Linked DNA regions of Homo sapiens. The protein of the gene in region 3 purifies or fractionates together with the protein of the main gene of each other region. This does not show direct contact. Each region holds a gene or a part of one and is shown on either strand. Other genes may lie near its edges. The genes, in order: GCH1, MTHFD1L and MAPK10.

What was found.
Region 1: the proteins of MAPK10 (region 3) and GCH1 purify together in Homo sapiens (affinity purification with western blotting; one study listed by BioGRID). This does not show direct contact.
Region 2: the proteins of MAPK10 (region 3) and MTHFD1L purify together in Homo sapiens (affinity purification with mass spectrometry; one large-scale study listed by BioGRID and IntAct). This does not show direct contact.

The regions. Positions count from the first base shown.
Region 1 is NC_000014.9:54,892,705-54,896,358, reverse strand, and holds part of GCH1 (GTP cyclohydrolase 1), read left to right. Parts: intron 1-3,654. UniProt on the Homo sapiens protein: Positively regulates nitric oxide synthesis in umbilical vein endothelial cells (HUVECs). May be involved in dopamine synthesis. May modify pain sensitivity and persistence.
Region 2 is NC_000006.12:150,882,556-150,886,209, forward strand, and holds part of MTHFD1L (monofunctional C1-tetrahydrofolate synthase, mitochondrial isoform 2 precursor), read left to right. Parts: intron 1-206; coding exon 207-331; intron 332-3,078; coding exon 3,079-3,179; intron 3,180-3,654. UniProt on the Homo sapiens protein: May provide the missing metabolic reaction required to link the mitochondria and the cytoplasm in the mammalian model of one-carbon folate metabolism complementing thus the enzymatic activities of MTHFD2.
Region 3 is NC_000004.12:86,009,855-86,014,157, reverse strand, and holds the end of MAPK10 (mitogen-activated protein kinase 10), read left to right. Parts: 3' UTR 1-3,753; downstream 3,754-4,303. UniProt on the Homo sapiens protein: Serine/threonine-protein kinase involved in various processes such as neuronal proliferation, differentiation, migration and programmed cell death.

The DNA.
Region 1 (3,654 bases), on a different chromosome or scaffold from region 3:
AAGGATACTGGTGGGAGATAGGAGTGAGTGGGAACCCACATCTTTAGGTCCATAAACGCTTCTGCACAATCCCTTTTATTTCTTTAGAGAGCATGAGTCAAGTGGCCACTATATATTGTTTTTGGATAAGAACATACTTCTCTGAAGGTCACTTTTCTGTGCTTGTAAACAGGATACAGGACTTTATATCTTTTATATATCTGTATTCTATATATTAACTCCTGGTTAGTAATGTTGACTTAAGTGTTGTAAAATTTAAAATAAGTTGGTATTTTACATTCTTCAAAATCCATTTTTCCTCCCAGTGCCTCTTGTGTGGATTGATCCAAATTCCTGGCATTCTGGGGAATTTGTTCAGTTTTCCCTACGTTGCAGCGTCTCTCCATGACTGTCTCCTTGTGCACCTTTTCCCTACTTTCCAGTGTGTACCTTCCATGGGAGCATCTGTGGTCATCTGTGACCAGGGTGGTGTCAGGGTTGTATAGGTTTCCTAGTACTATTCCCTACTGGACTGTAGCTCATGGGCTAGGAGGGAGGGCTGGAGGAGACGCTATCATCTCTCCCAGGAACTGGCTGTCCTTTGAATCTACATCACAAGCTGATCCTTGGACCAGCTCAGACCAGCTCGTCTTGATCTATTTCTGTGCCATTTCAGTTTAGCTGTATCCTAGTTCTCTTAAATATTCAAGGTTTTATCTTGGTGAGTTCTCCTTTCTATATAAGGTACCTTTCCTGTATTTCCACTATTCTTTTATTCAGAACCTACACTTAGTTAAATTGGAGAGTCTGCTATTCTCTGAGGGCCTTGATCTTCATGCCCCTGTAACTGACCCTTCCAGGTATACATGGGAACAGCCTTTCAGACAGCATTATCTACCAAGGATTAAATGGGTATAACTTGTTCCATCAGTTGTTTTTTATGAGTTTTTGGGAATATGCAAGAGTCTTGACTCTGTCACATTTCCAGTTAAAGTAGGTTTTAGCTTGTCTGCCAAGACAGTTTTTATAAATCATGTTAACAGTTCAAAATTTTGGGAAGCATGCATATAATCCAGCGTGAGGAGATGGCATTGGAGATGGCTGACTGCTTCCCTGTGAGGGCTGAGGAAGCACAGACACTGGCAGTGAGTCATATCCCCACCTCAGCCATTTTCACTGGAAGATTATGTCTATTCGCTAAAGATAATGGGAGGCAATTAGATACTTTGTTTATACAAAAATGCATCTTAGACACTTCATACTGAAATGTAGCAATCACAAAAGGTTTTTCTTTTTGAATCACAAACCTCTCGGATTTATTAAATTAGACTGCTGTGGTGAACTAAGAATTTTAACAACTTCTAAGATGTGAAGAGGAACAAAAACATAAACTATTTACTATTCTCTCCTATATCATGGGTGAAAGGTGAGTTTATATCCCAAGTTTTAAAGTATATTATAGAAATGCTCTTCTCATCATTAAAAGGTACTATTTTAGATGTGTAGCTCACTCAAATTTTGATCCATTAATAATTTTTGTGCTTGGTTTGTTAATGAACACTTATATAGGACTTAGTTGTGTTCATTGCCAGAAAGAGCACTGTGAATAAAGAAGAAAAAATAACAAGGCACTTTTGACATATTATATGATTGGAATTTTGGACATGTCTAAGTGGAATAAAACAGTTAAGAAGTTACTGAGAAAGGGGGAGAAAAGCCAATCCTAATAGTTTCTTTTAAAAATGGATTATCTATAAACAATTTTTCTGACATGGGAAGAAAAATCAATATACATAACTTCACTATAGCAAGCAAAGCCTTCAGGTTGGTACTCGTACTAGATTCCCAGGGCTGCTATCACACAGTACCGCAAACTAGGTGGTTTAAATGACAGAAATAAACAGTCTCACAGTTCTAGAGACTAAAGTTCCAAAATCAAGGGGTCAGCAGAACCATACTCACTCCAGAACCTGTAGTGGGGGAGGCTGTCCTTGCCTCTTCCCAGCTTCTGGTGGTGGCCGTCAGTTGATGGTGTTCCTTGGTTTGAGCTGCGTCACTCCAGTCGCTGCCTCTGTCAGTGTCCATGTTTTTGTTTTGTCTTATAAGAATGTCAGTCATATGAGGCAGGGTCCACTTTACTCCAGTATGCCTGTGTTAGTTTAGCTAATTACATCTGCAACAACCCTACTTCCAAATAAAGTCACATGCTAAAGATACCTGGGGTTTAGGACTTCAACATATCTTTTTTGGCGAATGGCACAATTCAACTTGTATTAGTACTAAATACTATTATTAAAAAAATTAGTAGGAATTTTACTACAATTTCATTGATCATCAAGTACTACGCACTTCACTGAACGCTGGGAATGCAGGATGAGCAAAACCAGGTATAGTTCCTGCCTTCATGGAACTTACAGCCTAGCAGATAGAATCACATGAAATAGAAATGTGTTGTGAGATTGAGAAATGTGATGATAAACAAAAACACAGCTCAGTGAGAGCACTTGGCATAGGAACTTGACCAATGCCAGGAGATGGGAGCATGAATGGGTGAAGCGATGCTTAAGCCGACTGATGTTCTGAGTAACAAATACTGCTGATGGCTTACTTTGTGCTAAACAGTGAGTTTTTACATGTGTTACCTCATTTGATCCTCACAGTAGCACGATGGGGTAGGCAATATTATTCCCATTTTATACATAAGGAAATTGGGGCACAGAGAGAACTTTCCCAAGACTGTATCTTGAAAGTGGCGGAGCTGAGAGGATGATATAGAAAGAGAATCATTGTAATCTCTGGTAGGTGATTTAATTTTAATAATAATATTTTACTGATTTATTTGAATGATTTCTCCCTTCTTCCTCACCTATCCCCGCTTTTGTATTTTCTCTGCTATTTGCTTTGTCCACCTCTAGAAACCCTTCCATGCCTGGGCATTCCCCACCTGACTCATTTGCCAGTGATTTCTATATGAGGACTGTAATTTGAGTCTAGTATTTGGTTGAGTAGACTGCAGTGTTAAAACTCACCAGGAGAGGGCAACTGTCTAATCATTGGATCCCAGATTATGAATCCTGGATTATGTGAACAATTCTCAGTTCCAGGTTATGCAAACAAATATGTTTCCCATGGTTATAAATTTGCTAGAGTCTATAGTAATTAGATTGGGATATAATTTGTGTTGGGTTATGCAAAGAGTATCTGAACCAAGTTAAATCTGTTATACTCAAGGCCAAGAGGACATTCATTTACTAGAATTTTATTCTATTGGAGCCCATTAGTAGAAATATTTATTTATTTGGAGGCAGAGTCTTGCTCTGTCACCCAGGCTGGAGTGCGGTGGCATGATCTCAGCTCACTGAAACCTCTGCCGCCCAGGTTCAAGCAATTACCCTGCCTCGGCCTCCCGAGTAGCTGGGATTACAGGTGCCCACCACCATGCTCGGCTAATTTTTGTATTTTTAGCAGAGACAGGGTTTCACCATGTTAGCCAGGTTGGTCTCCAAGTCCTAACCTCAAGTGATTGGCCTGTCTCAACCTCCTAGAGTGCTGGGATTACAGGCATGAGCCACCGCACCCGGCCGGAAACATACAATGTTTGTCCTTCATGTCTGGCTTATTTTACTTTGCAAAATGTCTTCAAGGTTCATCCACATTAAAAACATCTATTTTATT
Region 2 (3,654 bases), on a different chromosome or scaffold from region 3:
ATTTTTTTTTTGAGCCTTGTACACATGATGAAAAGAAAAAAATAGGCTTTTTATTATGCTTTACACCAAGTTTCCAACAAGGAGCAAAACAACAACAAACTATAACAGATGCATTTTCATGAATCCACTTTTTATATAAAGCTTCCTTTGTTGGGTCTCATTTTCACAAAACTAATTTTTATTTTGTTTTTTTGTTTTCTCTTTAGATTATAGATGAAATCTTAAAGATCAATGAAGATACCAGAGTACATGGCCTTGCCCTTCAGATCTCTGAGAACTTGTTTAGCAACAAAGTCCTCAATGCCTTGAAACCAGAAAAAGATGTGGATGGGTAAGAAAATAAAATCAAATAATCAACCTTTATGGCTAAATCACTTTTTCTATTGTGCCTGCTTTTATTTTTCTAAATTTCTTCTATTTATTTCAACTGTGTCAGTAATTGGATAAAAAAATCATTTTAAATATTTCAGGAGTCTATAGGATTTTTTTTTTTTTGAGATGGAGTCTCGCTCTGTTGCCCAGGCTAGAGTGCAGTGGCGTGATCTTGGCTCACCACAACCTCCATCTCCTGGGTTCAAGCGATTTTCCTGCCTCAGCCTCCTGAGTAGCTGGGATTACAGGCATGCGCTACCATGCCTGGCTAATTTTTGTATTTTTAGTAGAGACGGGGTTTTACCATGTTGGCCAGGATGGTGTCTATCTCCTGACCTTGTGATCCACTCACCTCAGCCTCCCAAAATGTTGGGATTACAGGCGTGAGCCACCGTGTCTGGCCATCTGTAGCCTTTTAAAATTCTGCATGCAAAAGTTACATATTTTGGAAAATACATTAGCCCTTTTATAGTGCTTCAATGCCATATGATCTTACACCATCAGATTCATTTAATAAATTCCGGTCTGACTTATACAATCTTTAGCCAGCTCTATTCTTCTAATAGTTTTTTCCTTGGTAATTCTACCAGACCAGAGAAGAAAACTTAGAAACCTGATTCCCCAGCAGTACCATATTCTGTCTTAGTCCCAGGCCAGTTGAGAAAAGCAAAATAAATACTTTTCTTAATGACACAAGGTTTTATTTGAAATTTGGAGGGGAACATCATAACTATTGGGTGCTGTAATGTTGGCCTGTGATTCATGTCATGGAGTGACATAAGCTTCATAGAACAAAGGATACCGGCCGTCTCCAGTGGGGGATAAGCATGCTTCCTGGGGATTAAAACCCCATTTTCCTCCATGGAAATATAGGAAGTGTTTTGTACTGTGGCCAAAAAGAACACAATGTGTTAATGGTTATAGGTTGTAAGCAGATTTATAAAGTTAGATTCCAGATCCGGTAGACCCTGCAGGGGCTGGATGGGGAGGCTACCACCTTCCTGAGACACCCAGCAATCTTCCATTCTAGCCTTTTATTGTGACTTGAGTAGACCCAAACACAGGCTGAAAAGGTGTCATGAACACCTCCAGTCCTGGCTGGGCACAGTGGCTCACACCTGTAATCCTAGCACTTTGGGAGGCCAAGGCAGGAGGATCTCTTGATCTCAGGAGGTCAAGACCAGCCTGGACAACATAGTGAGACCTCATCTCTATTTTTTTTTTTTTTTTTTGAGACAGAGTCTCACTCTGTTGCCCAGGCTGGAGTGCAGTGACACGATCTCGGCTCACTGCAAGCTCTGCCTCCTGGGTTCACACCATTCTCCTGCCTCAGCCTCCCGAGTAGCTGGGACTACAGGTGCCCACCACCACACCTGGCTAATTTTTGTACTTTTAGTAGAGACGAGGTTTCACCGTGTTAGCCAGGATGGTCTCGATCTCCTGACCTCGTGACCCGCCTGCCTCGGCCTCCCAAAGTGCTGGGATTACAGGAGTGAGCCACCGCGCCTGGCCCCTTGTCTCTATTTTTAAGTAAATAATTAAACATTTTTTTAAAAAACGACAATCTCCAGTCCTGTCGTAGACTAACTGTAAAAGGAGAAGAAGCACTAATCCATGAGAAAACTTTCAGAACTTGAAGGTCCTAGGGCATAGTTTCAAGTCTTTCATAAAAGGAGGGGAATTCATGCTGAGGCCCAGCCAGGAAAAACCAACCAAACAAAAACAACAGAGAGTAAAAGGAGAAATTACGAAAATGGTTCTAAATGTCTCCATTCTGTTACTGAGATTGACGTGCTCAGTTTAGGCTAGATAGCTGTGGAATGTTTTGTCCTAGATTTGAACAGGGAAAGGCACAGAACCCTTCAGAAGTGTGTGGTCACTCATTTTTTCCACTGCCCCCCACCCCGACTTCTCAAGGAGATAAATATCGAGGTCAAGTTGAAATCAGACCTGTGACCTGTGCCTCAATCCCAGGTCTTACTGGGTCACTCCAGATTTATAGGATTGGTTCTGGGTTTTGAGTGGACTGCAGGACCATGCTTCTGTGTAACTCTAGGGATGCTAGTCCATTGGGGTCCATTGAAAGGAGCTCCCTGGAGTTGCGAAGTGAAGCCCTGTATGGCTTTAGGCTGTGTCCTGGTATATTGGCAGAACCGGAACACCCAATGTCAGGGCCAGGGTGAAGTTTCCTAAGGTACTGCCTTAGAATTTTCTAAGACCTTTATTGAATGGCCTTTATTGCCTGCTTTCTCTTTAATTCATTTTTTATGGGTTTTTTTTTTTTTTTGAGATGGAGTCTCGCTCTGTTGCCCAGGCTGGAGTGCAGTGGCATGATCTCAACTCACTGCAACCTCTGCCTCCCAGGTTCAAGCGATCCTCCTGCCTCAGCCCCCTAGTAGCTGGGATTACAGGCACGTGCCATCACGCCCAGCTACCTTTTGTATTTTTAGTGGAGTTGAGGTTTCGCCATGTTGGCCAGGCTAGTCTCGAGCTCCTGACCTCATGTGATCCACCCGCCTCAGCCTCCCAAAATGCTGGGATTACAGGCGTGAGCCACCATGCCTGGTCCTCTTTAATTCATTTTTATGTATTCTGTCTATCAAACATTGACTTGGATGTTATTTGGGGTTAATATATGTACATTACACGTGAGTGATTTTTTTGGCTGGGCTTTGACTTAACCTACTTCTTTATTTTCTGATTCAGAGTAACAGACATAAACCTGGGGAAGCTGGTGCGAGGGGATGCCCATGAATGTTTTGTTTCACCTGTTGCCAAAGCTGTAATTGAACTTCTTGAAAAATCAGGTAGGATGCTCCTTGAGAAATGCCGCTGATTTCTATTTATTGGTATTTACATTATTTTTAATAAGGATTTGTTTGGGGAAGAATTAAAAATTTTTTTAAATTATTATTCTGATATCCTTTTAGGATGTTTCTAGAAGATTCTAATTGAACATAGAAGTGATATTTCACGTTGACTTTTTTTATTTTTCTCATCTTTTGGGAGATACAGATGAATACCTAGAAACTTTTTCTAGTAAGACCATCTTATAAATTAAAAGAGAAATTAGTAGAGATAAACGATTAGCCCTGTTTTAAACATGCTCAATTTCTCTCATGAAACAGTCAAAATAACCACAGTAAAATATGCTTCCAGTTTCAGCTTACTAAATCTATCAATATGTAGCCTTAGATAAGACTTACGTTGAAGACTTAAATGAGGCCAGGCACAGCGGCTCATGCCTATAATCTCAGTGCTAGGCGAGGCCAAGGCCAGAGG
Region 3 (4,303 bases):
GGCACTCTGAGGAGCCTAACCTTCTGTTAGGCTTCCTTTGGGGCAGTTGGTTTGCAGTGATCCTTAATAAAATAGTTTGCAGTATTTTGTAGGAAGGATGGCTGTGTACTCATGTGCAGGGAAAATTAAACTGCTGCAAGAGTTTGGCAAAACCGCCACCACTTTACTATTAATATGTCTTTACTATTTTTATATGTGTTTTGTGGGTCAGCGTGTTCAATTTTAAATAGGAATACACTAGCCTTACAACGGAATTTCTTCTTGTGGAATAAAAACTGATAATAACCTTTCATCTTCAAGAATCTGATGACTGAGTTTTGTAGGAATGTACCCAACAGTTGGACCAGAGCCTGGCCAGTTCCCACCAATTGGAGTAAGCTATTTAATTGAGGGTTAAGAAGCTCGATAGTTTTTTCAATCTGTTATCAGAAAAATATTATCTAAAGACACTGATAGCAGCTGACTGGTAAAACTGAAAGTTGGCCTTAGTAAATGGAACTAGTAAAAAATAGATAAAAATATGTAAAACCTTTTATGTCCTGTCAAGGAAAAAAAAATAAGCAAACTTGATTTGTTTTAAAATTGTAAATATTCATTGCAAAACCTAAATTATACAAAATCTATTTCGATTTGAATCTCTTAACATATGAAAAGCCACATCTTAAGTGCATTATGCTCTGTAAGGCATGTTATTAGCCAGCTTTGCTGAAAAATGTATTCTTCTACAGCTCAGAAAGAGGAGTAAAATTGCTCTAGAAATTTTTGATCTCAGCCACTTTGCATCCAAAGAGGAACCCAACTCCCCACTCACAATCCCCCACACACATTTTAATTATAAGAGTTCAACATTTTCCACAGATATCATTAAGCCAAGCAAGGAAACTCCTCTCTGTAAAAACAACAAAAAAGTTGCAATGTAAATAGTTATTTTAGCTATTTTCTTTGTGATTAGAGGATAAGATTTTGTTATTTCTTTTGGTACTTAGTCCTTTAACTATCTGAAAATGGCTCACTTTGACCTGTTTCTTTGGTCAGCCAAACTGAAGTGAGGGGCCTCTGTTTATATATAGAATCTTGTATATGTAACTTTACTTATGTGGGACCAATGGCCAGTATATTCTAATGGACACAAATCTCCCAATCCTTATGTAGGATTATCTGTTCACCTTGCCATGTCCATCTTGCAATGAGACCTAACTTGCACCTGCCTGTTTTTCTGCATGATTGGACTCCAAAGACTATTACCAATGATGAGAATTGTCTTGTGTCAGTGTTTATAAAATGGACTTAAAGCACACACACATGCATACCCACATTCACATGCACCCTTACAGTTCTAGATCAACCCTGGAAGGCAAAACCATGTACGTCCAGTTTCTTTGCAAGGTCTGAGCAGTGAGAACTAAATTCAGTCAGTCTAATGGGTAAAATGCAACCTCAGTGATGCTTAATAAGGATTTGAAATCGTTCAAGTCATTTCTGTGTTCTTTCTCACACCCTTTCCTTTCTATTTTGTCTTCTTTTATTTTCAAAATGTCTGTGGAACAAGAGGATGAATCGGGGGAGAACTTCTGCTTCTTTTGACTCTTTTTAGGTAATATGGAGTCAATATATTATGATTTCTGTTTCTTATGGATTATTAAAATCAGAGGAAATCTGCTTCTCTCAACATAAAACCAAATCCAAACCCAGACATTGTTGGAGTTTGCCTGTTGACAATGGTTATGATGCTGCTCGTTGTCTTGAGTTGCATGTAACGACAGTAGCTCTGAAGGGTGTCATGATTTCATTTTGGCAACTGGTAAAAGAAACTTGTAGTGTGGTCTGATTGTGCCAGGGAATAAATAAGAAATAAGGAATGACCTACTTTCTCACCTTGGGTCAAGAGTGTGTGATATGAATGTGACCATGTAGAAATCTGTGTTTTCATTTGACACTGGTTTCTTCTAAAACTGACCTTCATTTCTGTCTGTAGATACTAGTTGTATATCTGCAATTCAGTAATTTCTTTTTAAGGTATAAAATCAATGAAGAAAAAAAAGATCATCTTTTGGGGGGGCATTAGGTAAGTAGAGCAGGGTTAAATTTCCCAGATTAATTATCAGATTTCTATTCATTTTAACTATTTTCCAAGAGAAAAGGTAAAAGCCTTTGTTTAGCTACATGATATCCAACTTTACTATCTCAAACTCCTTGGAGAATTAAAAATATATATGATTTTGTGGCTGGATGAAGAGGTCACTGCACTTGCATTAGTTTACTTTGCAGTGTTTGAACAGTTGAGGAGTGGCTCTTCTATTTCTGTAAATAATGTTTTATTTAACCAATTAACTATTAGAAAGCCTGGAAGATAAACATACACATTATTTTGAGTTATCACATTTATCGTTTTACCTAGTTCCTGTTGGAATATAGAAAGCAACAGCTTTTTGTTATCTCTGGAACAGCTTCTATCCTAGTTTAAATCACAGATCCTTACTCTCTTTAAAAAAGGTCAAGCATAGGTACCTAAAAATACCCACAATAATAAGAAGGGAAATTGCATTCCACAAGATGATTGCTCTTAAAGAGTCAGAAGGAGTTATTGGTGCATTCCTGATACCATAAATGGTTACCAAACATTTGGTAATTTTGACCAAGTTCACAGTAAGGAGAAAAAAGGGTGTTGGACTTGCTTTTCTTGAAGATTACTTATGGAGCAACCAACCTAGAAGGATGAATCTACTTGCCAATAACAACACTGGATCACAGCCAAGGCAGAGGTTTTTGACATTCCCAATTCATCATGGTGGTGTTTTGTATTTGTAACATGTCTTTTCTCCACAGATGTTGAAAGGCATGCTTGGATGACACATGCTAATAGTGAAACACGCTGAAAGTCCTGCCATCACAGATCACTTTATGTTGGGAGCCACTCTATGTGGCAAGTCATCTGTCCCAGTTCCAGACTAAATTTCAACTGTTCAACCATTTACATCATTGTAGTCTGTTTAAGGCACTAAAAATGTGCTGTAGAAATTTATATTTCTCAGACACATGAAATGTGGTGACACATCCAGCAACAAGTCAAACACTCCTTTGAAATTTTCTACCTTATGTCAAATATTTCTTACTTTTAAAGACATTCCTATCCTGGTGTAAAATCCAACATAAAATAATTTGAGGGAATTTAAGGAATTCAAATTTCACTCCGTGGGGTACGTGGCTTTATTTCTTAATCACTGAACTTCTAGTAATGTTCTTCACCTGATCTTGTCTGCGATGTTTAACCAACAGTCCAGATCATTTGCAACTCAAAAGCAGGTACAAAATGTTATCCATCTTAAAAACCCCTCACATATTCCCTAGAAGACTGTCCCACACATAATTCGCCTTCCATTAACACTTGTGAACCCATCCTGGTGAAAATATTGCCTATGAACAATTATACCAAAAAATCAATTTTTATAATGCAAATAATATTTTACACAGACCAAGAGAATTCATAATATTAAAGTATTTCTTTTATAAAAGGAAGGTTTTCAGAAAGCAATGGCCTATTCCTTCATGTTAATACATTGCGAACTTGGATTTGGTGTAAATCAAGCCCTGAGAATATTGCTCTGAATTTCTAGCTTAATTTCTGAGCAACATTCTAAAGCAGTTCATTAATTTACTCCAAAAACATTTCTTGGACACTTCGGTGTAGGAGATATATATTGCATGGTCCTTAACCTAAAAAATTCAGAGTTAATAAATCTTTGTTTAAAAAAACTAAAGCAAATATTTTTATTTCATTTATTTGCTATCTTTTTACAAAATGTATTTAAATTAGTGGTGTGACTTGCACGAGTCCATTTTTATTATTTGCTTAAAGCGATGAAACAAGGAGTCTGCTTCTTTCAATGTTCTTATTTTGTCTAATTATATAAGTATACTTCATGAATCAGCATGAGAATTTTGAATATTTTCCATTACAAGAGATGAAACCACTTTTAAAAATTATTTAAAATTTAAAATTCATTTTAAAAATGCATGGATGTTCTTTTCCGCATTGCAGAAAGTTTGCTTTGATGTATGGTTCCTCTGAGAGCTATTGGACCTAGATGCTGACTGAGCATGGGGCTTATACTTTTGGCATCACAATCTCCAAATTAGCAAATGATATCACAATGGGTACTGAAGCTTCTTTGCAGTGACATTCTTACATGAAGCCAAATCTTCGGAGTTTGTTCAGTCTATGGGTGACTGTTGGAACCCTAAAATAACTTAAAGTAGAATTTGGTCATTTATTGTTTTTTTTTATTAAAAGGTCCAACTGAGA